Regions from separate parts of the Homo sapiens genome. Here region 2 is linked to region 1. The links come from fine-mapping of genetic effects on gene expression. A gene starts in region 1. The other region holds a variant in brackets. All regions are shown on one strand. Distances are from middle to middle. Region 1 holds the start of ZFTRAF1 (zinc finger TRAF-type containing 1). Region 2 holds the start of ZNF16 (zinc finger protein 16).

The links.
Region 2: its variant is fine-mapped to the expression of ZFTRAF1 in caudate (GTEx, PIP above 0.99).

The regions. Positions count from the first base shown.
Region 1 is chr8:144,455,478-144,470,465 of GRCh38, forward strand. ZFTRAF1 (zinc finger TRAF-type containing 1) reads right to left here and starts at 7,394. Exons shown (of 4, transcript NM_001330618.2): 1 at 6,806-7,394. The coding sequence starts at 7,177. TMEM276-ZFTRAF1 (TMEM276-ZFTRAF1 readthrough) reads right to left here and starts at 10,224. Exons shown (of 5, transcript NM_001408018.1): 1 at 10,094-10,224; 2 at 9,332-9,619. The coding sequence starts at 9,424. TMEM276 (transmembrane protein 276) reads right to left here and starts at 10,015. Exons shown (of 3, transcript NM_032687.4): 1 at 9,876-10,015; 2 at 9,332-9,619; 3 at 8,348-9,135. The coding sequence starts at 9,424. The coding sequence ends at 8,650. It overlaps KIFC2 (kinesin family member C2), which reads left to right and starts at 10,860. Exons shown (of 18, transcript NM_001369769.2): 1 at 10,860-11,041; 2 at 11,283-11,361; 3 at 11,482-11,633; 4 at 11,726-11,864; 5 at 12,008-12,153; 6 at 12,237-12,302; 7 at 12,382-12,510; 8 at 12,852-12,929; 9 at 13,059-13,173; 10 at 13,248-13,357; 11 at 13,794-13,902; 12 at 14,013-14,170. The coding sequence starts at 10,943. It also overlaps MIR10400. RefSeq lists enhancers at 6,965-7,642, 7,643-8,320, 8,415-9,028, 11,227-12,063, 11,754-11,853 and silencers at 7,307-7,606, 7,657-7,776, 9,734-9,963, 10,014-10,273, 10,344-10,473 and 3 more.
Region 2 is chr8:144,942,459-144,957,062 of GRCh38, forward strand. It overlaps ZNF16 (zinc finger protein 16), which reads right to left and starts at 8,422. Exons shown (of 3, transcript NM_006958.3): 1 at 8,339-8,422; 2 at 3,553-3,757. The coding sequence starts at 3,748. RefSeq lists a silencer at 7,932-8,241 and an enhancer at 8,482-8,551. The variant CCCTATT/C (reference allele first, on the strand shown) is at 7,755.

The sequences.
Region 1 (14,988 bases):
GGAGGGGGCACAGATGCTATTGAAGCAGCTGTCCTGTGGGAGGCACAGACCAAGGGCCCACACCACTGTCCTCTCACAGCCCCCCGCCCCCCGGAGGTATGCCACTCCACGTGGCCAGCTCTAAACACCTCCTGGTGAGACTGCCGGGGGCCTTGGACGAGGTTCTGGGTCCAGCTCTGCACGTACAGTGGCCTTAGCACAGGCAAAACAGCACTCTTCTTGGCTGTGGCCCGACCCCCAAGGGAGTTCCAGGCAGGGCTGGAGCATCTAATGCCACCCACCAAGGCCACCTGGCCTCTCTTCCTGGCTCTGCATAGCCCAGGAAGATTCGAGGTGGGGTCCTAGACCCTCCTAAGGGAGCACTGAGGCTGCCAAGCACATCACCACTTACCTCCCAGCACTGCGGGCCTCTCCCCCGAAAGCCACCCCAGCTCCTGGGCCGGCCCCTGGCCACAGGCCTCATTCCTTTGGGGCCTCCAGATCCCAGCATGGGCTCAGTCAATTCCATACCATGAGGAGGCAGCAGTGACCCTGCCCTCCTCTGGCTCTCTCTGGGCCTCCAAGAGGACCTGCAAGCTCCGAGGAGACACAGGGCCATTGCCCCTTCAGCCCCAATAGCTCCATTCAAGTCAGAACACAGGGAGTCCCTAGAGTGCCCTGGACTACACTGGCCCAGTAGCCAAGGGACACAGCCACACTCACCCCCAGACCCTCCCCACTGGTCAAAGGACATCTCTAGGTGCATGGCCCGGTCCCGACCAACACTCAGCCCAGGAGGTCTGTCCACAGCAGGACGGTCCCTGGTCACATGCTCCGGAGCCTCCCCACCATCTGGGTCCCCTCAGCCCCTGCGCAAGACTCTGGCTCTACACCAAGGCCAGGCCACAGGCAGCTGCATCCTTGGCCCTGGCAGCATCTGGCCAGATGCACTTGATTCTGACTTGTGCCCAACACCCAACAGAAGCTGGGCCCTGGAGGGCGCCGCACAGTCCAGGGGATGGCGTGGGCCAAGGCCCCCAAGAGCCCGGGCACCTTCCAGAGCAGCTGCTGTGGCACCCAGGCCAGGCCACCTCTCCCCACCAGCCAGGAAGACCCCAAGGGAGGGGAGAGGAGGGGATCCACAACCCCCCACGACCAAGAATGACGCCATGGGGGATGACATCATGGGCGAGACATCACAGAGGATGATGTCAGAGGGGTGACATCGTGGGAAATTGACATCACATGGGGAATGACATCATGGGGGAGACATCACGGGAATGATATCACGGGATGATGTCACATGAATGACATCACAGGGGGGACATCATGGGAGACTGGCATCACATGGGGGGATGACATCACCGGGGGATGACATCACAGGGGCATGACATTGCAGGGGAATTGCATCATGGGGGGTGACATCACGGAATGACATCACAGAGATGACATCACACTGGCATCATGAGGGAATGACATCACAGGGGATGACATTACGGGGATGACATCAAAGGGAGTATTGACATTACAGGGGATGACATTGTGGGAAATTGACATCATGGGGGACTGACATCATGGGGGGATGGCATCATGGGGGGAATGACACCATGGGGATGACATTAAAAGAGGTATTGACATCACAGAGGTGATACCACAGGGGATGACATCATGTGGTGACAGCACGGGAATGACGTCACATGTATGACATCACAGGGGAATGATGTCATGGGGGAATGACATCACGGGGGAATGACATCACAGGGCCTCCTGGGCCCTCCTAGGGCAGATGTGGGCTTGAAGCCACAGTGCTGGGCTCAGACGCCAGCCCACAGATCCCCAGTAATATGACCTTGGGCTCCCCTCTTGGGGCCTCAGTTTCCTCATGTGCACAGGTGATGAGTATAGGACCAGCTTCATTCTGTGCTGATGAGGTGGGATGGGACAGGGTGGCACTGCCCCACACCCAACAGGCAGACAGGAAATATCACCACCTTGGGCAGCCATGGCAGAGCCCCTGGGGCTGCCAACCCCAGGAGCCAGACCCCAGGCCCCTCTGCAGATGCTGATACACACAGGTGGCCCAGAAATGGCCATTTGCACCTGCATCCTCAGGACAGCACCCAGCCCTCCCCCCTGCTGGCTACAGGCAGCTCACGTGACCCCCATGCAGACCCAGGGTCTCCACCTGAGCTACTTCTTCCCTGGGGTTAAAGGGGAGCTAGATGGGCGGAACAGGCTCAAGGAGCCCTGACCCCATCCCCTGGCTGAGGGCCCCCACGATTTCCTGGTGGTCCCAAGGTCTCTATGGTCAGCTGACCTTGTAGGACCCCTTTCACACCTGGACTGCATGGTTCTCTCAGACCCTGGGGACCTCCTGTTTGCCACTGGAGGATGGCACAGTGCCCAGGCCCATGGGAGCAGTGCCCTCGCTCACCCAGGGGTCAGGGACCCACAGGCCCTTGACAGAGGTCGTCAGAGCCAAAATGCAGCCAAAGGGCTTCCCTGTGGCACAAACCCCAAAAGCGCTGCTCAGCCAGTTGGAGGTCCCCCTTCCTCTGCCATCTGCATGCAGGCAAGGCCTCACCAGGGCCAGTGGTGCTTCAGGGCACACCCCATGCACCCCGCGTGCTCGGCCCCTAACCTCCCGAATCAAACATGGGTCTGAGAGGGACTGGCACGTTGTCCAAGGCCGCACAGCTGTTAAGCATGAAGCCAGGACTCGAACCCTCCACCCAGGCTGGATTTGAAGTCCCTCACCTGCTACTGCTGTCAGACCTCAAACGGTGGCCAATCAATCCCCAGAGTCGGGCCCACATTCAGAACAAGGCTGCTTAGATCTAAAAGTAACTCAAATGATAACCACCACAGAAAACAAAAATTCCAACTAGCCAGAGATTCCAGAACATCTTCCTTGCTCCTGTGTTTTAGATACCTAAGCAGACGTATTTACAAAGATGTTTTCTGCCACTTTCCTCACCTCAAAGAACGAGTCAGCTGCAGTCCTGTACTGCTGCCCAGGAGACTGGGGAAGAGGGGCCCGAAGCTCCTTGGACATGTGGATGGTGACTCCACCCCCCCAGGACTGCACACTGTTGGCCTGGTTGGGGGTGTGGGGCTCGGGCAGAGAGGAGCCATCTCTGCTTCCTGGGCTGTTATCAATGGACTGTCAACATGTGGCATAGAGACATGGGCGCTACAGGCGGGAGGGCCACGGCACACACCAACCCACCCACAGAACAGAGTGGACACACCCTGGTCAGATGGGGCAGGAGGGGATCCTTGTAGCAAGGAGAGAACAAAGTCTCAAAGTGGGGGCGCTGCCTCTGCCGGGCCCAAGAGGTGGGCAGGGGCAGGGAGAGGACACCTCAGGCAGGAGAGCATGGGAATGGCAGGGCACTGTGCAGGGCCGAGTTAGAGGGAGCGGCTGGACCACATCTGTGAGAGGCCCCTGCCCGGCACTTACACCCGAGTGAGCCCGTTTTTGCCTTAAGAATGCCCCATGAGGGGTGGGAACAATGCGCAGTCCCTTCCTCCAGGTGCCAGCACCAAGGCCCAGGGCCTCATCTGACAGCAGCAGGAAGGGTCAGGGCCAGGTCTGTCTTACGCAGCATCACACTGGGCCTCGTCTGAAGGGCCAAAATGGAGGGAGAGAAGTCAGGGATGAGGCTGCGGCTGCAACGTCCCGGGCACCGCTGAGGCTGTCTCTTCCCAGAGGAGGTGCCCCATGGGCAGAGGTGCCAACAGGCCACACTGCCCTCGGGCCGCAGAGCAGGGAGCCGGCAGGAACGACCTGACCACCTGCGCGGCCTGGTCAGGCCAGAAGCTCCTGCACAGGTGTAACTGCTGCCCCACCAGCCCTCCTGCCACCCACCTGAGACTCCAGAAGGTGGCTGCACACCTTGTCAGGCCAGTCCCCCAGAACATATCTAACACCCACACAGAGAACATAAAAGCTGAGTCTTGCTGTACTGGCTGCAGCCCCAACCTGACGTGAGGCAGGACTCGGCGGTGGCGGAAACCTTTTGCATGAGGGCCTCAGTCTGACACCCAAGCAGGTTTCCCAGCCTGTGAGGCATCATCGTACGGGCACAGGCCCATGGGTCAGCTGGCCCTGCAGGCCCAAAGGCTCAGACCTGGGGCACCACCCGAGGCTTCCCTGCCAGCACTGGTGGCATCTGGTATCTGGATGACAAGCTCTCGAGTTACTGAGGACCCAGCCAATTCCAGAGGCCCATGGAGTTGTCCCCCACAGCCCCAGTGCCAGGGAGAACACACAAAGCTCAGCATGGCCACTCCCCTCTTCTCACCAGAGTCAGGGACTGTCTAAGTCAGCCCCCAGCTTGGCTGGTGCCCACCCTGAGCCATGTGTTCTGCTGGGGTCAGGAAAAGCGTTCTAGCAGGAACAGAGGGTGGAACCTGCTGCATTCCTGACACTGGCTGGCTCGAGACAGCCAATCAACGTGGTCACCAAGGAAAGCTAGTAGAATATGGTAGACTGAACCCAAGCTGGGGTGATGGCCAGCATGGGCCCAACCAGGGACACGCAGAAGGCAGCATGTGGGGGCCCACACCATCTGTGCCCAGATTCTCCAGGGAGCAGAGCAGGCCAGAGCCCAGGTCTCCAGGTCTGTGTTGACCTTCCAGGGGCACCACTCACAGCCGAGAGCCACCCGCCGGAGGTGTTCTTCGCAGCATTCAGGGAGGCCTGTGCCCACAGCACTCCTCGCTCAGCTGCTCTGTTCCCAGGGAAGTCACTGAACAGAGCCCCCAGGCCAGGGAGGGCCACCAGCCAGGGCAGCCCCAGCGCCTTCGGTCTCCATTACACCTGTTCAGCTCCCTGCCTCTGGCCGCCCAGAGCAGAACTCCACTCTGCACAGTGCAGGCCGGTTTGAACCAGCTAGGCTCAGAGGCCTGGTCACCAGGAGCTCCGGTCAGAAGCAGAGCCATCACTCTGTGCCGGGCCAGTCTAGATGGGGGATGCAGTGCACCAGGGACCAGTACCATGTGGCCCATCACCACCAGGTCCAGCTACAGCTCCAGCCCACCCACCAATGGGGAGACAAGGAGACTTCCCTGTTCCCCCGTGGCCTCACACCATTGGCTTGGCTTGTTGGAGTCTCCCTCGAGATCCAAGAAAAAGTTCTGGCCAAGCGCAGTGGCTCATGCCTGTAATCTCAGCACTTCAGAAGGCCGAGGCAGGCGGATCACCCAACGTCAGGAGTTCGAGACCAGCCTGGCCAACATGGCGAAACCCCGTCTCTACTAAAAAATACAAAAACAGCCGGGCATGGTGGCAGGCGCCTGTAATCCCAGCTACTCGGGAGGCTGAGGTAGGGAGAATTGCTTGAACTCGGGAGGCGGAGGTTGCAGTGAGCAGAGATCGTGGCACTTCACTCCAGCCTGGGTGACAGAGTGAGACTCCGTCTCAAAAAAAAGGAGAGTTCTTCCGCCTGGGAGGATCGAAGGTTGTGAGCCAGGAAAAAGGAGCTGGAGAGTGGGCACATCTTGGAAGCTGAGGCACTGCCAAAGCCAAGGAGTAACTGCTAACTCTGGGAGCCAGTGGCTCTGAAAAGTGCTCCCCTAGCTGGCCCTGGTGCCTGACACCCAGGAGGGTGGGTTAGAGCCAGTGCCCTCTCCCCACCCAGGCACACTGGGGTCCTCCCGACAAGGTCATGCCACAGCAAGAAGGACTTGGAGATCCAGAGTTTGGAGAAATGGCAACCTAGACTAGCCCTACACCACCTGCTACAAAAGTAGCTCCTCATCCAGGCCCCCAATTCAAACACAAGCAGGGAAACAAGGCCCCATTAGCTACTTCCAGCTCCTGTAAGTGTAAAGAAAGCTGACAGAGAACCTGCTTCATTTCTCACAGGGACTGGGGAGTTGAAAGAGAGGGAAAGACACAGGGAAGGTGGGGACACTGTACTCTGCCTCTGGGTGTCAACCAGTTTGTCCCTGCTGCTACCTGGGAAAGGGCATGTCAAACCCACCTGGGCCAGGTACCCTAACAGCCCTAGGCTGCTTAAGGGCTGAGTCCCACTGCCATGCGGATGTGAAGATGGGGGAGGAGGGGTGGGCCGGCTCCTGGAGCACTGGCTGCCTAGGAAGCCTGGCCTGGCCTGGGTGAGGTGGGCAGGAGCCTAGCGTGGGGCATGGCAAGTCCAGTTGGATGTGGGGTTTGGCTGGGACTGGAGAAGGTACCCAAACTGTGGGGCTTGTTGCAAATGGTTCATCCCGACAAACAGCAATCCCCTCTCCTTACTGTTCTTCAGGATGAACTGGAAATGGACCAAGAGAAAGGATTCTTCCACCCAGGAGGGTAGAAAAGGAGGCGTCCATAGGATGTTCAGGAGTGGAGGGACAAACTCGGGGGTGTGGCTGCCGGAAGAATGGGGAAGGAGCTCTCGAGCACAGGACTCTGAGCCCAGGGAGCTTGGGACCGGGTGGGTTGCGGGGAGCAGTTGCGGGCTAAGGATCAGTTTGAGGCTGTGGGTTGGGAGAGTGTTCAGGGGACCGTGGGGAAGTCTAGAAAAAAGAAGGGAGAGGTAAGCGGAAGACAAGCGATTCAGATCGGGAAGTACCGTGGATCAGAAAACAGAAAAGGGGGGTCCCGAGCGGAAAATAAAGCCCTGAGAGAAAGACAACGAGGAGCTTCGGAGCAGCCGCTGGAGCCCCGCTGGGCGAGGAAGTGGCTGTAAGGGCCAGAGAGGGTTCCCGGCCGCCGGGCCCCGCAGGCCTGGCCTCCGAGGAGACGCGGATCCTGGGGCCCCGCGGCGGGGGCTGCAGCCCCGGGCTGGGCCGGGTCGGGGTCGGCCGGCGGCCCTACCTGGTACACGGAGGCCTTGGGCAGGTCCAGGCACACGGTGCAGCACAGCACCGAGTAGAGCCGCTCCTCCAGTTTCCCGCTGCCGGCCGCCGCCGCCGCCGCCGCCGCCTCGGCCGCCTCGGCTGCCCGCAGCCGCTTCTTGGGCGGCGCGTCGGGGTCGCCGGCCGCCTCCTGCAGCTGTAGCTGCCGGGCGCCCGCCAAGCCCGCCTCGTCCGGGAGCCCAGGCCCCGCCGCCTCGCCCAGAGCCGCCGCCGCCGCCTGCCCGGCGGCCGCCCCGGGCCCGGCTCCGACCCCGACCCCGACCCCGGCCGGCACGGAGCCCGCGGGCCCCGCGGCCGGGCCGCCCCCGCCGGCCTCCTCGGCGCCGGACATAGCGGCCGGCCGGCCCGGCGGGCGGATGCCGGCGCGCTCCCCCGACTAGAAGTTAGGGGCGCCGCGCGCTCCCGCCGCTCTCCTGCCGCCGCCGCCGCGAACCCGCAGCCCCGCTCCCTGCGCCGCCGCCTCAGTGGGCCCGGCCCGCGCGTAGCCCCACAGCCGCCGCGGCCACCGACCCCGGCACGGCCGCCATCTTTGTTTTCGCTGTGCGCTTCCCCCCGCCCCGCCGCCACCACCCCCTCGTCTTCCCCGTCACGTGAGCCCCACGCGGGGCCAATGGGAGCGCCGCTTGGGGCAAGAAAGCGCAGGGACTAGAGCCAATGGGAGAGCGAGGGCCCCCGAAGGCCCGCCCCTGCAGAAGGTGGGCGGGGAGGGGGCGCGGCCTGCGAGAGTCGCGGAGGGACTCGCACCTGGGGGCAGGGAGGCCCACGCGAGCTGTGGCGCCGGCGCGGCACCCACGCTCCACGAGCCAGTGGCGGCCGCCGACCCCTACGGCGGGGTGTGCCTGTGTCTCTGTCCCCCAAGACTCAGGCTTGTGTTAGGGGCTCTCGCCCCCTTCCCCGCAGGGGAAGGACACAAGTGAAAAATCCCGCCGGCCACCCCTCTCTGTCGGGTGCGGGACCCCTTAGGTCTCCACAGGAGCAAGCGGAGAGACTTCCAGGAGAGGGGACTCCAGACCCCTAACCCACCGGAATCTAATCCTCTGCTCGTCCGAACCCCCTCTAACCCTGGGGTTGGAGACTGAAGGGGTCCACTGAGGAAAACGAAGGTATTAGGGAATAGGGCTGGCTTCCACAGGCCGGAGGTACACAGGAGGGCGAATCAGCTCTGGGAAGGATGTGCGTTTCTCGAAACGCCTGTGGTACAGCCCTCCCCTGCCTCCACCCTACTCTTCAGTTCTTGAAGGTCACTGCCCCAGAGGGCCACCTGCCAGGCCAGGCCAGGATATCTGGAACTCCACCATGTCCCTGGAGAGTAAGGGCCCAGGGCTATGTCTTCTCAGCCCAGGGGTCTTCCTGACAATAGTCAAAAGGAGGCCGGGCTGCATGAGACCCCATCCTAGTTCCAGCACATACCCTGTCAGGGTAACTGACTACTGTCCTGAGGGGCCTTAGGAAGCTCACTGAAAGATCCCTCAATCCCTCTCAAAAATGGGCAGTTTTCATATTCCTGCAAAATTCCTAAGATTTATTGGAGACTAGGCCTCTTCTCTGGATCCACAACCGTGTCCAGCCCAGAATCAGGACCCCCAAACGTGTCTGGGACCCTGTCCCTTTCATTCTGGTCTAGACAAGTCCCCACACGTGGCCAAAGGACAGCACCCAGACTCTGCCCCTGACCAGTCAATGTGCAGCAAACCCACTTCAGTAGGCAGAAGAGTCTACCCCTAGGGAGAAGGCGCCAGGAGCAGGCAGGTGGGAGGGAAAGTGTTCGGCAGGGCAGAAACCCTGCCTGGCTGTATCCAACTGTCACTCCCACTGGAGGCGCTGTGTATGCAGGGCCCGGCAGTAAGCCCAGCTGCCTACAGCCAAGGCCCAGCGACAGACATCCTCCTTCGGTAGCAGCAGCAGCCTGTCCTCCTCCAGCCGGCTCAGGAGGCCTGCCACACCCAGCATCGCCCCCCCCCACATCCCATAAGTGTTGGCCGTGAAGACAGCTACAATGAGGATGGTCACTGCGACCACCAACAGCATTGCCTGACCAGCCACAGAGCGGCCCTCAGGGCCGAGGTGGCCGCCAGCCACTGCCAGCACCATGCCTCCTCCCAGGAGCAGGTTGGCAGAGGAGCGGTCCCCATTCACCCAGTGGAAATCGAAGGCCAGAAGGGGAAGGCCGATGACGGTGGCCACCCAGGCTCCAGCAAGGCAGTCTTCGTGTGTGCTCAGCCCTGGGGCCAGCGTGGTGGTGGCAGCCAAGACCTGGAGCAGGAAGCCAGCAGCAGCCCCTCGACTTGCCTGTCAACACAGGGAAGGGAGAACACGTGGGAAAAAGAGGCCGGGGTCACCCTTTTAAACAGGAAAGGGTTTGGGGCTTCCATGGAGACCTGGTCTTAGACGCACTTCCCACCAACCTCTCTCTAATTCAGGAAACTAGGTCCTTGGGGTTTGGGAGGTATGGGGATGCGCCCCTGCTCAGCCCCAGTGTACTCACCTCGGCTGTGCTCACGGCTGCGTGCAGAGACACCACTCCCAGCACCAGATGGGACAGGGCTGTGCTCCACTCGGCCCCCGGCTTGGGGGCCATGGCACCTCAGGCGGCAGTATGTACGAGGACACAGATAGGAGATACTCAACTTTGGAGAGGAAGGAAGCGCAGAAGCCAGCGACCTGGAGCCCTACGCGCGGCACTCTAGTAAGCCCAGGTTCCAGGTCCCCATTACTGGATGTTAGGAGAAGTTCAGTCCTAGACTTTCCGGATCCCTGAGGCCACTGCACACACCTGTGGAGAAGAAGAACCTAATTCAGCCGGGAAACGGGGGAAAACGACTCAGGGTCTAAGCTGGGGGGAACGTCAGCCCTGGGGCCCTGGAGCCCAAGTGGGAGTGCGGGCCTGGGGAAGAGAGAGCGGCGAGGCGCTGCAGGCCCACGCGGCGGCCTCGGCCTGCTCCCTGCGTTCCGGGAGGCGTTGTCCTGGGAACCCGGGTCCAGGAGGAGCGACGGCGCAGGACTCCGGGAGGCCAGCCGTGCGCAGTTACCGGGCTGCGCGGTCCCAACGCAGCGGCGAGCGGGAGGCCCGAGCCTGCGCAACGCACCGCCCACCGCCGTCGGCCCTGCCTCCTCTGCCGTGCCCCCAGTTGCGGGAGCGAGCGCGGTCGGGAACCTCCACCAGCGAGAGGAGCGGAGGCTAGAGCGGCCGGGCGGGGCTAGAGCGGCTGGGGGGGGAGGGTCGAGGCCTGGGGGAGAGGGTCGAGACCTGGGGGGGGCCGGTTGGAGGCCGTAGGAGCGGGTGGGGTCGGGAGGAGCTCGGGGACCAGAAAACGCTCTGTTTGGGTGGGTGCGTGCGTGGGCATAGTGGTTTGGAAGGAGCGTGATGAGGGGAGAAGGGCCGGGGCGGGGCTGCGAGGGGCGGGGTCTGGGCGGGGCTGCGAGGGGCGGGGGGTCTGGGCGGGGCTGAGGGAGATAAGGTTTAGGCGGGGCTGAGAGCGGCGGGTCTGAGAGGGAGGGGGCCTGGGTGGGGCGGGGCCTGGGCGAGGATGCGATGGGGGGGTCTGGGCGTGGCTGCGAGGGGCGGGGCCTGGGCGGGGCTGCGAGGAGAGGGGTCTGGGCGAGACTGAGAGGGACCGAGAGGGGAGGAGCCTGGGCGAGGCTGCAAGGAACGGGGTTTGGGCGGGGCTGCGAGGAGGGGGGGTCTGGGCGGGGCTGAGATGGGCGGGGCTGAGATGGGCGGGGCTGTAGGGAGAGGAAGGAGAACCCCGGCGTGTTGAAGGCTCCGCGAAACCGGAGCGGTGGGGGACTACGCGGAGGGTGGGAGGGATTCCGAGAGGAGGGTCGCGGGAGCCGTGGGCGCTCTCAGCCCGGTGTCCGCGGTGTAGGGGTTGGGGCGCGCCGGGCGGCGCCGTGAGAAACGGCGGGTCTCCAGGTGCGGCCGCGGGCACCTGTTTCTAGTACCCCCGTCCCCGCGCTCGCCTTCCAGCCGTGGGAGCCGGGCCGTGGGGGCGGCCGTCGCGAGCATGCGCACCGGCACTGCGGCGGGCGGGCGCCGAGTCTGGGCGCGGGGACGCGGGGCGGCGCGAAGCGGGGCCCTCTGCCGCCCCGCGCTCCCATGTACGCCTTTTACTCGTTGCTCATCTACATCTTCTACAGCCTCTTCCGCAGGGATGGTGGCGCCGCGGCGGCCGCGGAGCCCGGGGACCCCGCCCAGGTGAGCGGGGCTGGCCGTGCAGCCCGTCGTCTCCCGCCGCCTGCCCCACCCCCACGCCGAGGTTCCCGGGGCGGGGGCGGGCACGGGGCGCGGGGCGACGGGGCCGTGCCGAGGACCCTCGGCTCGGCCCCGATGCTGGAAGCGTAGACTTCGGCCCCAATCCTCCGGCCCGGTTCGCGGAGGGAAGGGGCCAGCAGGCTGCCTGCCCCCCTCCTCAGGGGCGCCCCTGCCCCCTCCCTAGAGAGCCCGCAAGCCCCGGGGTCGCCGGCGCCCAGACCTGCCCGCGCCAGAGCTGTGGACCGAGCTGACCGGCCTGGCCGGTAGGTGCGGGCTGGGAGTCCCGCGGTGCGAGGGCGGTGCCGGGACCTCCCAGGGAGGGGCGGAGGCCTGGCTCAAGCACGTGACCCGAAATGTCTCCCGCCCTCCTCCCTGACCGGCAGCCAGCTCCGAGCCTGAGGATGGGTCGGAAGGCGCAGCCGAGGGCCGCGCGGCCGCGGTGTCCCTGGAAGAGGCCCTACTGCGCCTCGCCGAGTTCCTCTCCGTCCAGCTGGGGGCGGAAGAGAGCTGCGGGGGCCCGGCGGACCTGGGCCAGGTGAGCGCGGCGGAGGGGGCTGCTGGCAGGTACCACCTGCCCCGGCCTTCCTGGCTTTCACAGCCCTGCTCGGATTCTTGTCTCCTTCGCAGTCTGGCGAGGTCCCCTCACTGTTGACAGTGACCAGTCAGCTCTTGGCCCTTCTGGCATGGCTTCGAAGCCCCAGGGGGAGGCAGGCCCTGCTCCAGGGGACTCAGCCAGCCCCTCGGGTCCGGCCCCCCTCTCCAGATGGTGAGTAAAGGACAGTAAGTTGAAGAAGAACTCTGGAGGGAGCAAATCCCGGTAGAACCTGGGCGGCCTGGAGTTCGGGGTCATGTTCCGGAAGATTTGGACTAGAGACCTCTTCAGTGCTAACTGGGCCCACCCTACTCCAGGATCCACATCCCAAGAAGAAAGCCCTTCCCACTTCACCGCAGTCCCAGGCGAGCCACTGGGGGATGAGACCCAGGGACAGCAGCCCCTCCAGTTGGAGGAGGATCAGAGGGCGTGGCAGCGGCTGGAGCAGCTCATCCTGGGACAGGTGAGGTCCCTGGAGCCAGAAGGGATTGCCGGCTGGGACGCCAGAAAAAGGAGGTCCACCCTGTCTCTCTTACTTCTCCCCAGCTGGAGGAGCTGAAGCAGCAGCTGGAACAGCAGGAGGAGGAGTTGGGTCGACTGCGCCTGGGCGTGGTGAGGCTGCAGGGAGACCTGGCAGGGCCGGGCATGGAGGGGGTGCTTCAGGTGAGTGCCGAGGTTTCCTCTCCACCAGGGGGCGACGGACTCAGAGAAAAGGGTTCAGCATCTGACTCTGGAGAACGAGGCCCTGAAGCAGAGCCTGAGTCTCATGCGGGACCTCCTGCTGCACTGGGGCCCCGGGCCCCCCATCAGGGCTCCGCAGGTACTCTGCTCCCGAGCTGCAGCCGTTCCTGCAGCCTGGGGCTCTTGCACACCTGGCATGCAGCCACAGGGCCCGAGCCTCCTCAGGACCTCCCGGGATGGTCTGTGTAGGGCAGCCCCATCAGGGAGGCTGATGCCAATGGGAAGACCCCCCTCTCCGTGGCCCCTCTGAGTGGCTGACCCCAGGAGAGCAGAGGGACTGTGGGAAGGAGGTCTGCGTGGAGCTGGGAGGCATGGGTTCACAGCCAGCTCTGCCCACCTCTTGACTTGACTTTCCCATCTGTGAAATGGTACCACAGACCGTCCCTCTCTGAGTCCCTCCTGGCCCCCACCCTCCCGCAGGAGGAGGCAGAGGCATTGCTAGAGCTCCAGGGCCGGCTTCAGGAGGCCCAAGACACCACAGAAGCCCTCCGAGCCCAGGTGGGCATGGGGCCCAGGGATCCATGGCTCAGGGGTGAGGCGGGCTGGGGTTTTGGGAGGGGCTTATCTGAGGCAGGGCCTGGTAAGTGCCTGTTTCCTCAGTGACAGGGGTGGGGTTGGGCGGGGCAGCTGGGGGTGCAGGAGGTGCAGCTGCAGGGCCTTCAAGGGGCCCTCCAGCAGCTCCAGCAGGAGACGGAGCAGAACTGCAGGCGTGAGCTACAGCAGATGCATGGGCAGCTGGCAGGTAAGGGTTGGGGTTGGGGCTCATGGGAGGCCCTGGAGGCTGGGCCTTCCCTTCCAACAGACTTCCCTCTCCAGGACTTCGGGCACGGATGGCCAGCCTGCGTCAGGGCTGCGGGGACCTCCGAGGTTTGGTCAGCACCTTTACCCAGAGCTGTCAGGGTTCGCTGAGTGAGGCCCGGGGCCAGGTCAGGACCCCTCCCCGCCTAGCCCCTCCTCTCTGGGCAGCCTATTCACTGTTCTTTTGACGGGGGCGTTCCTGGGGAGTTGGCTGTACTAATAAGTGGGGCTCTGGAACCCAAACAGCTTCTGTGTGACCCAGGGTGGGATTCCACTTCTGGGCCTTATTTTAATTCTATGCATACTTGGTTGACAGTAAACTCTTAAAGCATTGCCCAGAAGCACGGAGGAGACAGATGATGTGGTGTTCCTGCCTGTCATTCCTGGGCTTTATCCTGGGGTTACTCAATGATGTCCCCAGGGGCCCAGAGCCACTGAAAGTTGTGGCTTAGCACAGCTGAGCGGGCCTGTGGGGGCTCCCTGCTGCTCTCAGGACCCTCCCACCCCCCACCTCCGCAGCTCCTTGGCTGACCCCTTGCCTTCTGTACATCCCTGTTCCCTCAGGTGTCCTGGGCCTTGGGGGCACTGTCATCTGGAGGGCCTGGCACTCAGCTCCCTGAGGGGCAGCAAGGGCCCCCAGCCGGATGCCCAGGGCGGCTGCCAGAACTCAAGGGTATGACAGGCTTGGGAGCCTAGCGGGGCAGGGAGGGCGGCTGGAAGAAGTGCAGCTTCTCTGTGCTTTAGGGTCTGCGAGGCATTATGCTGACCTGATCCCCACTGCAGGAAATATCCGTGTGCTGTGTCGGCTGAGGCCAGGGACATCTTCTAGCCTTGTGAGTGTGGAGCCTGGCCCAGGGGGCACCGTCACCACCTGCTACCGGGGGCGCCATCGTCGATTCCGCCTAGACTGGGTCTTCCCTCCAGACGCCAGCCAGGAGGAGGTGACAGCCTGCCTTTGCAGCCATCCTGACCCTTTTTCAGAGTTCCCTGAAGAGCAGGAGAGGCTCCAGTTTCCCCTTCCCAGTCTGGGTGTCCACCTGGAGGAGAGAGGGTGGCTGGGCTCTAGCCAGGAAGGAAAGGGAACCGAGGGGGCTGGGAAGCAGGGCAGGCAGCCCAGCTTGGTGCCTCCTCCTCCCAGGCTTCACTGCCTGCCCACTCCCCTTTGCTGGGGTCCAGGGTTTGCCCAGCTATGAGGGCCCCTCATTGCTTTATGGCCCCAAGGCAGGCGGTGGGTGGTGGGGGCCGTGGGTGAGGAGGCAACCTTCTAGTCTTAGTGTGCTCTCTCTGCCTTGCCTGGATCCCACTCTCCTTCCCCACCCTTTTCCTGCCAGACACCTGTGGAAAAGCAGGGGCTTCAGCCCCAGCCCACCCCACTTTCACACACGTTTTCATCTGCACATGCCCTTTGCTGCTACAGCTCCCATAGCTAAGGAGATGGCAGCTCAGAGCCAGGGGAGACTAGGTAAGGGGCAGAATGGCAGCGACTCCCAACCAGGCTGCCTGCCAGCCTCACAGGGACAGGGGGACGACTGCCCAGCAGGTGGCCAGGGTCACCCTGATTGCCTCTTTTCCAACCACTTCTTCCTTCATCCCACACATCCCTCTGGCCTTAGCCCCACCCCACACTGCAGCACTGCGCAGGGCATGCCTTGTGCACCGTCCTCTGGACAGCCGTCCTGGACAGGGTCCTCTCAGTCAATGTGTCTGAACCAAAGGCATCTGTGGACAAGCCCCTCATCTGTGTTCCTGTTTCTGCAGT
Region 2 (14,604 bases), 490 kb after region 1:
TGTATTTTTAGTAGAGACAGGGTTTCACCATGTTGGCCAGGCTGGTCTCGAACTCCTGACCTCAGGTGATCTGCCTGCCTTGGCCTCCCAAAGTGCTGGGATTACAGGTGTGAGCCACTGCGTCAAGCCCATTTTTAAGATATTTTCTTACTGATTACCATGATGATTGCAATGAACGTTCTAACATCCTAAAACAACTGATACCAGTTTAGTCTCAGTAACACAAAATCTCTGCTTCTCTACAGATGTTACCCCCCTTATGTTGTTGTCATCACAGATTACACCTTTATACATAGTGGGGTAAAAAACATAGACTTATAATGCAGACCTTTTATGCATTTGTTCTTTAGATCACTTAGGAAATATGTAATGGCAAAAACCACAATTAATTTTGCACCAACTTAATACAAAGTGTACTTAGAAACCAAAATATAGGGATACTAACTTTTATACTTACCTATGTAGTTACTTTTACTGGAGGTCTTTATTTTTGTATGGCTTTGAGTCCCTGTCTAGTGTTCTTTCATTTCAACCTTCAGGACTCCCTTTAAAAGCATTCCTTGTGGGGCAGTCTATTTGTAACAAGCTTCCTCAGCTTTTATCTACCTGGATATGTTTTAATTTCTCCTTCATTTTGAAGAATAATTTTGCCAGATAACAGAATTCTTAGTTGACAGGTTTTTTTCCCCCTCTTAGCAGTTTAACTAAGCCGTCCCACTGCCTTCTGACCTCCATGGGTTCTGATGAAAAACTGGCTAGAAATCTTACCCAGAACCCCTTGTTCAGGGATAGGTCTCCTCTCTTGCTGCTTTCAAGATTCCTTGTATTTCAACAATTTGATTAGAAAGAGACCTGGTGTGGATCTCTTTAAATAGACTCTACTCAGTTTGTTGAACTGCTTGTGTGTGTAGACATGTCTTTCATCACATTGGGGATACTCTCAGCCATTATTTCTTCAAATATTTTTTCCATCCCCTTCTCTATTCTTTTCCTTCTTGAACATCCCTACTATGCACGTTGGTCTACTTGATGGTGTCTCATGGTCCATTAAGTTCACTTTTCTTTTTTCTTTTTTTTTTGAGACAGAGTCTCACTCCATTACCCAGGCTGGAGTACAGTGGCACGATTTCGGCTCAATGCAACCTCCGCCTCCTGGGTTCAAGCGATTCTCCTGCCTCAGCCTCCAGAGTAGCTGGGACTACAGGCATGCATCACCACGCCTAGCTGATTTTTGTAGTTTTAGTAGAGACAGGGTTTCACCACGTTGGCCAAGATTCTCTCGATCTCCTGACCTCAAGTGATCTGCTTGCCTCGGCCTCCCAAAGTGCTGGGATGACAGGCGTGAGCCACAACGCCCAGCCATTAAGTTCACTTTTCTTAGATCTTTTTTCTCCTCAGACTGAATGATTTCAATTATCCTATCTTCAAGTTGCCGATTTTTCTGCCTGCTCAAATCTACTGCTGAAACCCTCTAGCAAAATTTCCATTTCATTTTTTAGTTCCAGACTTTCTATGTTTCTTTTACAATTTGTATTTCTTATTGATATTTTCATTTTGTTCACACATCATTTTCCTGGTTCTTTTAGTTCTCTATGGTTTTTTTTTTTCTTTTTTTCTTTTTTTTTTTCTTGAGACGGAGTCTCACTCTGTCACCCACGCTGGAGTGCAGTGGTGTGATCTCAGCTCACTGCAAGCTCCGCCTCCTGGGTTCATGCCATTCTCTTGCCTCAGTCTTCAGAGTAGCTGGGACTACAGGTGCCTGCCACCATGCCCAGCTAATTTTTTGTATTTTTAGTTGAGATGGGGTTTCACCTTGTTAGCCAGGATGGTCTTGATCTCCTGACCTCGTGATCCACCTGCCTCAGCCTCCCAAAGTGCTGGGATGACAGGCATGAGCCACCGTGGTGCTGGGTTACAGGCGTGAGCCACCGTGGTGCTGGGTTACAGGCGTGAGCCACCGTGGTGCTGGGTTACAGGCGTGAGCCACCGTGGTGCTGGGTTACAGGTGTGAGCCACCGTGGTGCTGGGTTACAGGTGTGAGCCACCATGCCCAGCCTAGTTCTCTATGGTTTCTTTCACCTCTCTGAGCATATTTGAGGCAGTTGATTTGAAGTTTTTGTCTACTTAAGTCCAATGTCTGTGCTTTCTCCAGGACACTTTTTGTCAGTTTACTTTTTTCCTTTGAATGGGACATATTTTTTTGCTTCGTTATATGCTTCATGATTTTTGCTTTGTTAAAAACTGCACAACTGAATATTAAAATGTGGTATCCCCCCTCCAGGCTTTGCTGTTTTTGATTGTTGAAGACTAGAGTCACATGTTCATTTAGTGACTTTTCCAAACTATTTTTGCAAAGACTATTCTTTGTCGAGTACAGTCACTGAAGTCTTTTTCTTTAGCTTGTGTTCAACCAGTGTTTTGACAGAGATTTTATCAAGAGAAAAACCAACACAAAACACTTCTCCCAGTCTTTGTGGATTGACTCTGTGTTGGGGTACTTTTTAAACGCTGTTTACAACTCTTTCTGAGTTGACTGCCTTCACTGAGCCTAGAGATTAGACAGAGTTCTTGAGAAAGCTTATGGTCTTAACAGGTCTTTTCTGAGCACACACCCAGTCCTGCGCATGCATGTGACTTCCTGGATTCCCCAAAATATATAGGTGCTTTTTTTTTTTTCAAATTTATGTATTTTTTTCTGAGACAGAGCCTCACTCCAGTTGCCCAGGCTAGAGTGCAGTGGCATGATCTTAGCTCACTGCAACCCTTGCCTACCAGGTTCAAGCAATTCTTGTGCTTCAGCCTTCCAAGTAGGTGGAATTACAGGTATGTGCCACCACACCTGGCTAATTTTTGTACTTTTAGTAGAGACAGGGTTTTACCATGTTAGCCATGCTTGTCTCGAACTCCTGGCCTCAAGCAATCCACCCACCTCGGCCTCCCAAAGTGCTGGGATTACAGGCGAGAGTGATCACACCCAGCCTTTCTTAATTTTTTAGTAGAGATAGGGTCTTGCCATGTTATACTGGCTGGTCCTGAACTCCTGGCCTCATACAATCCTCCTGCCTTGGCCTCTCAAAGTGCTCAGATTATAGGTATGAGCCACCACACCCGGGCCAAGGGTGCTTTTGAATGCCTCTATTTCCCCACAAGAAACTCCTCAGCTTTTCTTCCTAGGCTTTAGATGGCCAACTGTATGGGTAACCACAGTACAAAGCCCTGGACCAGAGTAGAGTCCTGAGGGGAGAGGGCTGCCACCAGCCTGGTTGTTGAATTGGGAAGGGGTCAGGAGTATAGGGCAAATCAAAGGACGCTGGTGGCCATCATGTCATACCTCTTCGTGTCAAGTGGGGAAATCACAGTTCTGCTCAAGGTGCCAGGGGCCAGGCTAGGTTAACTTCCTTGCTGACATCCAGCCTTGGCTCCTTGAGTCAGAGTACCCCGTCACCCTCCCTACCTGTGATGACACAGATGCCTCCTAGGGGTAAGCACAGGGTTCCATGGACATCACTTCCCCAGAATAAGGGCACCAGCGGAGAACTGTTCTTAAAGTACCTGGCTGCTGATAGTGAGGGCAGATGGCTTCCAGCTCAGTATCACTACAGCAGGGGGTACCACAGGCTGCAGATCCAGGGTGGGTCACAGCAGGAGCATCTCTCACACGGGCCTGGGCTGCAGGGGTCCAGGGGGATGGTCCTGGAACTGAGAGCTCCATCTCTGCCTCCTCACGGCGAGTTCTGAGGCTGGGCATGACAAGGACCTGAAAACCGGCAAGAACACAGGTGAGTCTACAGACAGGCTAGCTCTAGGGATTCATCCTCCCATCAGGCCGGGGTCTCTTCCTCCACCCCTGCAGCCCAAGACCTGAAGAGGGCCTGGTGCTGCCAGGTCTCAGGGGCTGATGCTGTGTTTCCTGATCTTGGACCTAAAAAGAGGGAGTCAGCCATGGAGACACAGACTCAAAAGCCAGGGCCACAGTACAAAGGGGCAAGATGCTGACCCTAAGGTAAAGTGGGTCATGGTGCCCAGACCTGCCATGATAGGAGGGCAGCCCCCACAGGGTCTGTGTCCTGCTGTGGGGCCTGTGTACTGCTGTGGGGCCTGTACCCTGCTGTGGGCCTGTGTCCTGCTGTGGGTCTGTATCCTGCTGTTGGGCTTGTGTCCTGCTGTTGGGCCTGTGTCCTGCTGTTGGGCCTGTGTCCTACTGTGGGCCTGTACCCTACTGTGGGCCATACCCTGCTGTGGGCCCGTGTCCTGCTGTGGGGCCCGTACCCTGCTGTGGGCCATACCCTTCTGTGGGCCTGTACCCTGCTGTGGGCCTGTGTCCTGCTGTGGGCCTGTGTCCTGCTGTGGGGCTGTGTCCTGCTGTGGGCCTGTATCCTGCTGTTGGGCCTGTGTCCTGCTGTTGGGCTTGTGTCCTGCTGTGGGGCCTGTGTCCTGCTGTGGGGCCTGTACCCTGCTGTGGGCCATACCCTTCTGTGGGCCTGTACCCTGCTGTGGGCCTGTGTCCTGCTGTGGGCCTGTGTCCTGCTGTGGGGCTGTGTCCTGCTGTGGGCCTGTATCCTGCTGTTGGGCCTGTGTCCTGCTGTTGGGCCTGTGTCCTGCTGTGGGCCTGTACCCTACTGTGGGCCATACCCTGCTGTGGGCCTGTGTCCTGCTGTGGGGCCTGTACCCTGCTGTGGGCCATACCCTTCTGTGGGCCTGTACCCTGCTGTGGGCCTGTGTCCTGCTGTGGGCCTGTGTCCTGCTGTTGGGCTTGTGTCCTGCTGTTGGGCTTGTGTCCTGCTGTGGGGCCTGTGTCCTGCTGTGGGGCCTGTACCCTGCTGTGGGGCCTGTACCCTGCTGCGGGCCTGTACCCTGCTGCGGGCCTGTATCCTGCTGTGGGCCTGTGTCCTGTTGTGGGGCCTGTATCCTGCTGTGGGCCTGTATCCTGCTGTGGGCCTGTATCCTGCTGTGACCACTCTTCTCACTCCTTGTTGCTGACATTCACAATGCTCTGAAGCTGGGCAGGCCAGACCCACCTAGAGTGGGAGAACAGCAGCTCCAAAGGGTGAACAGCCAGGGGCAGCCTGTGCTGCAGCCCCACATGTCATCATTATGTGTCAACGCCTACCAAATCCTAGTGGTCAGTTCTATCTGAGTTGCACCATCCTGGCAGCACCCACAGCAGGTGTTCCCATCTTTACTTGCACCAGCTACTCCCTCCTAGCCTCTCATTCCCCATTTCATGTTGGCACCCCAGTGTGCACTTCTGCACTGCCACCAACTTCCTTGGTGATTATGTCCAGTCTTGAGGCATCAACACCCTTGTTAAGATTCACAAACTTGGGCTCATCTCCAGTCCTAACTACTCCCTGTGAGCAGGAGAGAGGACACTCCCACGTGGCGGCATGACGGGCTCCTCACATGTTACTGATTCCCCCACCCCTCACTGTGTAAATGCACCATACCCTGCCCGGGTGCCCACTGGGAGCACTGACATACCTCAGCCCTTCACTCACATTGTACTGACATTGACTCTTCTGTCCTTCATGAGCACCAGCTGAGAATGAGGGTGTGGTCAAGGGGATCTGCAAAGGGGATGTGAAGAAAGGTGGCAGAAGGATGGTGCAGGGAGTCAACGTGATGGTACGTGTCACCCATAGGCCATGTGGGGAAGAAAGAAGGGCTGGGTGGTGCTCCTGGACTCAGATCACCATCAAGGAGAAGGCAAGGAGATATGAACAGAGCTCACAGGGATGGTTACTATGGACCAATGATAAGGGGCCTTGGCTGCCAGATGAAGGTGAAACACTGGCCACATTTCTGTGTCAGGAGAGACAAAACTAATATCTCAAGATTAACTTGGCAGGGTGCTCAGAGGAATGGTGGGAGATGAGATTCAAAGCAGGTACAGCACTAAGGTGCCTACCACGTGGCAGCAGAAATGGAGGAGACATGGGCGATGGGGGTGACAAGGCCCTCTGTGACTGCATCTGCCTGCCCTTACAGTGCAGATGCCCAGTTTCCTCGAGGGAAACCTCTCCCCATCCAAGTGGTGATGTAATAATCTGCAATATTTATTTAGTTCATTTTATTTAAAAATACTTTAAATTCTCATTGTTTCTGAATAGGGGCATAGTCACCTCAAAATTTAAAAGGTAAAAAGGATTTATGGTGAAAAATTCCCCAAACATCCACACAGTTTCCCTTGTTTCTAGTGTACCGTTCCAGATTAATCTAGGTTTACACAGCAAATATATAAACATATGTTTGCCTTTTAATGATAAATTACACCCAACTATGCTATGGCTTCACACCTTATTTTTCTCACTTCATTATGTGTGGGATCTTGCTTACCAGGACACAGAATAAATGCCCCCTCTCACCCAGGTCCATATCCTAATCCCTGGAACTTGTGCTTATGTTACACTACATACCAAAAAGGACTTTGCAAAGGGAATTAAGGTTATGGACGTGAATTACCCTGGTGGACCCAATCTAATCAAATGAGCCCTTAAAAGCCTGAGAAAGATCTGAGGGCCACATGGAAGGACCTCGGAGAGCTAAGGATCACTCAGGCTGGCAGCCAGCACTTCTGAGGACCAACCTCAAGAAAAACAGATTCGGCCAACAGCCTGAACAAGCTTGGAAGTGGAGTCTCCTGGCTAGAGGCTAAGCCTGCTCTTTAGGAGTCACACAACTGGAAGAGCCAGCCACCACCCTCCCATAGCAAGCAGCCACAGGATGGGCCCTGGCCGATCCCTCAGCACCTTCCCCCTTGGGGAAGAACTGGCCCAAACTCTCCTCCCTTCCCAGAGTACCTCCTCCACACGCAGAGCGACTCCACTACTGACTGGGCCTCCCAGGCAGGACATCTGAGGCTGAGCGAAACCCCCTTTCTCCCCCAGCTCTGCTCAGTGCATCTCTGACTTCTCATGGAACACCAGGAACCACGAACCCACCCTTGTCTCCCATGCGCTGGGAACCACCCCATCGCACTGCTGCCCCATGTAGGGAAAAGAAAGAAAGATCAGACTGTTACTGTGTCTGTGTAGAAAAGGAAGACATAAGAAATTCCATTTTGACCTGTACCTTGAACAATTGCTTTGCTGAGATGCTGTTAATTTGTAACTTTGCCCCAGCCACTTTGCCACAACTTTGAGCTCACAAAAACATGTGTTGTATGGAATCAAGGTTTAAGGGATCTAGGGCTGTGCAGGATGTGCCTTGTTAACAAAATGTTTACAAGCAGATGCTTGGTAAAAGTCATCGCCATTCTCCAGTCTCAATAAACCAGGGGCACAATGCTCTGCGATAAGCCACAGGGACTTCTGCCTTGGAAAGCCGGGTATTGTCCAAGATTTGTCCCCATGTGATAGTCTGAAATATGGCCTCATGGGATGAGAAAGACCTGACCGTCCCCCAGCCCAACGCCCGTAAAGGGTCTGTGTTGAGGTGGATTGGTAAAAGAGAAAAGCCTCTTGCAGTTGAGATAGAGGAAGGCCACTCTCTCCTGCCTGCCCCTGGGAACTGAATGTCTCGGTATAAAACCCGATTGTACATTTGTTCAATTCTGAGACAGGAGAAAAACTGCCCTATGGTGAGAGGTGAGACATGTTGGCAGCAATGCTGCCTTGTTATTCTTTACTCCACTGAGATGTTTGGGTGGAGAGAAACAAATCTGGCCTACGTGCCCATCCAGGCATAGTACCTCCCCTTAAACTTAATTATGGCACAGATTCTTTTGCTCACATGCTTTTTTTTGCTGACCTTCT[CCCTATT/C]ATCACCCTGCTCTCCTACTGCATTCCTCTTGCTGAGATAATGAAAATAATAATCAATAAAAACTAAGAGAACTCAGAGACCGGTGCCGGTGCAGGTCCTTAGTGTGCCGAGTGCCGGTCTCCTGGGCCCACTGTTGTTTCTCTACACTTTGTCTTATTTCTTTTCTCAGTCTCTCGTCCCACCTGATGAGATATCCCACAGGTGTGGAAGGGCAGGCCACCCCTTCACCCCGTCGCTCCGCCCGAGCTCGAATGGTGGCACCGACAGGCGGGAACGCCACCAGCCTGTGGGCGGAGTCCTGGCTCGGCCCCTCGCGGCGACCTTACCCCGGGGTCTCCCCGGAGACCCCCTACCGGAGGCAGCCCCCAGAGGCTCTGACCTCCAGCCCAGGCCGAGCTGCCCCCGCCCCGCCCCCCCCGCGCTCCCACAACCCCCCGCGCGGCTCCGCCCCCGCCCGGGGTCCCCAGCTCGCTGCCCGCCCCGTCTGAGCCCTGAGAGGCCCCTGGGCCCCCCAACCACGGGGGCATCAGGGACAACCAGACGCAGGGTCCCAGGCGTGGAGCTTCGCGGAACTAACCTCAACGGGTCGCGCTTGGAAAGGAGGCAGCACCGTGGCACGAAGACGTCTCAGCCAACGCCGGCTGACCCCCGGAAGTCCCGCCCCGAATTCCGGCCCGCCGCTCGTTCTATCTGGGGCAGCGTAGCCTCTCTAGATGGCGGGAGGCCGGGGCGACTCTGTGGTTCAGCCCCAGACCTGGTCCCACTAGCCCTGAGGCCAGAGACCCTTCTGTTCCCCTTTTTTTCAGAGTTGACCCGTGCACTGAACAAGGCGGCAACTGAAGAAAAGGGGACACTAATAGAAATGCAGAGATAATGAGATATACTCGTGTAGTGGGAGATTTTAATATACAGGCCCCCAGAATCGGAACAGACGGTAGTTTGATAAAAACCTAAGGATACGTTTTTTGGAAGAACTGAATCATTCAATCAGTAAGTGATTAGATAGATAAATGGAAGAATTCAGATTCCTTCAGTAGATAACATGTTTTCGTGAGATTGTGCATGGATCGTTTCTAATACGGAAATGAATTGTACACTTGGACATAAAGAATACAAATAAGGCTGGGTGCGGTGGCCCACGCCTGTAATTCCAGCACTTGGGAGGCCGAGGCGGGCGGATGGCTTGAGGCTAGGAGTTTGAGACCAGCCTGGGCAATATAGGGAGACTCCATCTCTACAAAAAATACAAAAGTTAGCCAGGTGTGATGGTGTGCGCCTGTAGTCCCAGCTACTCAGGAGGCTGAGGTGGGCGGATTGCTTGAGCCGGGGAATGTGCGGCTGCAGTGAGCCGGGATCACATGTTGCACTGATGAGAGAGTGAGACCCTGTCTCAAAAAAAAGAAACAAACAACAACAACCAAAAAAAACCTCACAAATATTTTGACGTTCATTTTGCAGGCAGATTAAACTATCAAAATCAGGAATACATAATAAAAAATGCATGACAAACTCTATTGGAATTTAAGAAACACTGTCTAGATAACCCCCCCCCCTTTTTTTTTTAGTTCAGGCTGAGGTGCTCTCAGTTGGAGATGAGGAACTTATTGGAAGCTGGAGTAAAGGTCACTCTTGCTATGCTTTAGCAAAGAGATTGGTGACATTTTGGCCCTACCCTAGAGATCTGTGGAACTTTGAGCTTGAGAGAGATGATTTAGGGCATCTGGCAGAAGAAATTTCTAAGCAGCAAAGCATTCAAGATGTGACATACCTTTTTCTGAAAGTGTACAGTCATATGCATTCACAAAGAGATGGCCTGAAATTGGAACTTATGTTTATTTTTTTATTTATTTTTAATTTTTTTATTTCCATAGGTTTTTAAATTTTTATTTCCATAGGTGGTGGTGTTTGGTTACATGAGTAAGTTCTTTAGTGGTGATTTGTGAGATTTTGGTGCACCCGTCACCTGGGCGGTATGCCTTGAACCCAATTTGTAGTCTTTTATCCTTCACGCCCTTCCTGCACTTTCCCCCTGAGTCCCAGTCCCCAAAGTCCATTGTATCCTTCTTATGCATTTGCATCCTCATAGCTTAGCTACCTCTCACGAGTGAGGACATACGATGTTTGGTTTTCCATTCCTGAGTTACTTCACTGAGAATAATAGTCTCCAATCCCATCCAGGTTGCTGTGAATGCCATTAATTCACTCCTTTTTATGGCTGAGTAGTATTCCATCATATATATATGTATGATGGAATACTACTCTCTATATATGTATAGATATATACATATATACACACATATATACACACACACATATATATATAAATATATATATGCTACAGTTTGTTTATCCACTCGTTGATTGATGGGCATTTGGGCTGCTTCCACATTTTTGCAGTTGTGAATTGTGCTGCCATAAACGTGCATATACAAGTATCTTTTTCGTATAATGACTTCTTTTCCTCTGGGTAGATACCCAGTAGTGGGATTGCTGGACGAAATGGTATTTCTTGGTAGTTCTACTTTTAGTTCTTTAAGGATTCTCCACACTGTTTTCCATAGTGGTTGTACTAGTTTACATTCCCACAAGCAGTGTGGAAGTATTCCCTTTTCACCACATCCACGCCAACATCTATTATTTTTTGATTTTTGATTATGGCCATTCTTGTGGGAGTAAGGTGGTATTGTTTTGTGGTTTTGATTTGCATTTCCCTGATCATTAGTGATGTTGAGCATTTTTTCATGTTTGTTGGCCATTTGTATATCTTGTTTTGAGAATTGTCTGTTCATGTCCTTAGTGCACCCCCCACTTTTTTTTTTTTTTTTTTTTGAGATGGAGTTTCACTCTTGTTGCCCAGGTTGGAGTGCAATGGTGTGATCTTGGCTCACTGCAACCTCTGCCTCCTGAGTTCAAGCAATTCTCCTGCCTCAGCCTCCTGAGTAGTTGGGATTACAGGCATGCGCCACCATGCCGGGCTAATTTTGTATTTTTAGTAGAGATGGGGTTTCTCCATGTTGATCAGGCTGGTCTCAAACTCCCAACTTCAGGTGATCCACCAGCCTCGGCCTCCCAAAGTGCTGGGATTACAGGAGTGAGCCACCACGCCCGGCTGTTAGCCCCCTTTTTGATGGGATTATTTTTTCGTGCTAATTTGTTTGAGTTCCTTGTAGATTCTGCATATTAGTCCTTTGTTGGATGTATAGATTGTGAAGATTTTCTCTCACTCTGTGGGTTGTCTGTTTACTTTGCTGACTCTTCCTTTTGCTGTGCAAAAGGTCTTTAGTTAAGTCCCACCTATTTATCTTTGTTTTTGTTGCATTTGCTTTTGGGTTCTTGGTCATGAAATCTTCGCCTAGGCCAATGTCTAGAAGGGTTTTTCTGATGTTATCTTGTAGAATTTTTATATTTTCAGGTCATAGATTTAAGTCCTTGATCCATCTTGAGTTGATTTTTATAACGTGAAAGATGAGGATCCAGGATTATTCTCCTACATGTGGCTTGCCAACTATCCCAGGGCTATTTGTTGAATAGGGTGTTCTTTCCCCACTTTATGTTTTTGTATGCTTTGTTGAAGGTTAGTCGGCTGTAAGTATTTGAGTTTATTTCTGGGTTCTCTATTCTGTTCCATTGGTCTATGTGCCTATTTTTATAGCAGTACCATGCTGTTCTGGTGACTATGGCCTTATAGTGTAGTTTGTTTCATGTGCATCCATGTGAAGAGACCACCAAACAGGTTTTGTGTGAGCATTATTTCACCTGGGTGCAGGTGGGCTGAGTCTGAAATGAGAGTCAGTGAAGGGAGATAGGGGTGGGGCCATTTTATAAGATTTGGGTAGGTAAAAGAAAATTACAGTCAAAGGGGGTTGTTCTCTGGTGGGCAGGAGTGGGGGTCACAAGGTACTCAGTGGGGGAGCTTTTGAGCCAGGATGAGCCAGGAGAAGGAATTTCACAAGACAATGTCATCAGTTAAGGCAGGAACAGGCCATTTTCACTTCTTTTGTGGTGGAATCTCATCAGTTAAGGCAGGAACCAGCCATCTGGATGTGTACGTGCAGGTCACAGGGGATATGATAGCTTAGCTTGGGCTCAGAGGCCTGACATTCTGGTCTTCTTATATTAATAAGAAAAATAAAGTGAAATAGTGGTAAAGTGTTGGGATGGTGAAAATTTTTGGGGGTGGTATAGAGAGATAATGGGTGATGTTTTTCAGGGCTGCTTTGAGCGGGATTAGGGGCAGCGTGGGAACCTAGAATGGGAGAGATTAAGCTGAAGGAAGATTTTGTGGTAAGGGATGATATTGTGGGGTTATTAGAAGAAACATTTATCATGTAGAATTATTGGTGATGGCCTGGATATGGTTTTATATGAATTGAAAAAGTAAATGGAATAAGAGAAGGAGAAAAACAGGTATAAAAGGTCTAAGAATTGGGAGGACCCAGGACATCTAATTAGAGAGTGCCTAAGGAGATTCAGCATAGTCCTGCTAGCAAAGATTATTTATTTACTTCAAGAGTTTAGAGTGGCAGTTTGGGGATAGCGCCAGGAGATATCAGCTGTGATGGCTTGCAGAAACAGTGTAAACCAGCTGTGTAAACAAGAGGAGGGCATGTATGAGTAGTTGAGAATGGTGAATAGGAGTATGACTAGATAGAAGATAGTAGGGATGACAAGTTTTTTTTGGGGCACAGTCTAAGTTGGTCTGCTGTCTGGAATGAGACCGGGGCCTAATAAAAAGGAGCATCTCTACAGGAGCTCAAATGGGCTGTACCTTGTAGCATTCTGAGGACAGGTCTGACTTCTGAGAAGGGAAAGTGGTAAAAGTGTTGTCCAGTCCTTTTTAAGTTGGTGGCTGAGCTTGGTGAGGTGTGTTTTTAAAAGACCTTTAGTCAGTTCTACTTTTCTTGAAGATGGAGGACCATAAGGGATATAAAGGTTTCACTGAATACTAAGAGCCTGAAAAACTGCTTGGCTGATTTGAGTAATAAAGGCTTGTCTGTTATCAGACTGTATAGAGGTGGGAAGGCTAAACTGAGGAATTATGTCTGACAGAAGGGAAGAAATGACTGCGGTGGCCTGCTCAGACTGTGTAGGAAAGGCCTCTACCTATCCAGTGAAACTGTCTACCTAGACTAAGAGGTATTTTAGTTATCTGACTCAGGGCATGTTGAGTAAAGCTAATTTGCCAGTCCTGGATGGGGGCAAATCCTCAAGCTTGATGTGTAGGGAAGGGAGGGGGCCTGAATAATCCCTGAGGAGTAGTAGAATAGCAGATGGAACACTGAGAAGTTATTTCCTTGAGGATAGATTTCCACGATGGAAAGGAAATGAGAGGTTCTAAGAGGTGGGCTAGTGGCTTGTACTATAGCATAGCCTGCCTTTGCTGGTGTGTGGTGATTAGGCCTGGTGGAACTGCCATCAATAAATCAAGTGTGATCAGGGTGAGGAACAGGAAAGAAGGAAATATGGGGAAATGGGGTGAATGTCAAGTGGATCAGAGAGATACAGTTGTGGGGGTCAGGTGTGGTATCAGGAATAATGTGGGAGGCCGGATTGAAGTCCGGGCCAGAAACAATGGTAATTGTGGGACTTAACAAAGAGTGAGTACAGCTGAAGGAGCCAGGGAGCAGAAAGTATATGCATCAGGTATGAGGAAGAAAATAGATTTTGGAAGTTATGAGAAATGTAGAGAGTGAGTTGAGCATAGTTTGTGATTTTAAGGGCCTCTAAAAGTATTCGGGTGGCAGCAGCCACTGCACAGAGACATAATGGCCAGCTTAAAACAGTAAGGTCAAGTTGTTTGGACAAAAAGGCTACAGGACGCGATCCTGGTCCTTGTGTAAGAATTCTGACTGCACAGCCCTGCACTTCGGCTGTGTGTAATGAAAAGGGTTGGGATGAGTCAGGGAGAGCTAGAGTGGGGGCAGTCTCTAAAGCTGTCTTCAAGGAATGGAAAGAGGAGTGGGGAAAGGATTTAGGATCTATGGGGTCAGCTAGGTTTCCTTTTGTGAGTTTATAGAATGGTCTTGTTAGGATGGCAAAACCAGGTATCCAAAGGTGAAAGTATCTAAACATGCCCAGGAAGGAAAAGAGTTGTTGTTTTGTAGAAGGGGTAGGGGTTTGAGAGATTAGTGGGACATGATCGGCAGGGAGAGCACGTGTGTTTTTATGAAGAATTATGCCAAGGTAGGTAACGGATGGAGAAGAAATTTGAGCTTTGGAGGGGGATACCTGATATCCATTGGAGAATAAATGCTGAAGGAGCAGAAGTGTGTCTTGTTGAGAAGATTCACAGGAGGGGCTACAAAGAAGAAGGTCATCAATATATTGAATAAGGTGAGAAGTGGAGGGGTGGAAAGAAAGTAAATCGTGAGAAAGAGCTTGGCTGAAGTAATGAGGGCTGTCCCTGAAACCTTGCAGCAGCACAGCCCAGGTAAGCTGCTGGGACCGATGATGGGTGTCAGGGTCAGTCCAGGTGAAAGCAAAGAGAGGCTTGGATGAGGGGTGCAGGGGAATAGTGAAAAAAACATCTTTAAGATCAAGAATGGAATAGTGAGTTGTGGAGGAAGGTATTGAGGACAAAAGAGTGTATGGGTTGGGCACTGCAGGTGGATAGACAAAACAATTTGGTTGATAAGGCATAGATCCTGAACTAACTTATAAGGCTTGTCTGGTTTTAGGACAGGCAAAATGGAATTGTAAGAGGAGTTTATAGGCTTTAAAAGGCCATGCTGTAGCAGGCGAGTGATAACAGGCTTTAATCCTTTCAAAGCATGGTGTGGGATAGGATATTGGCATTGAGTGGGGTAAGGGTGATTAGGTTTTAATGAGATGGTAAGAGGTGCA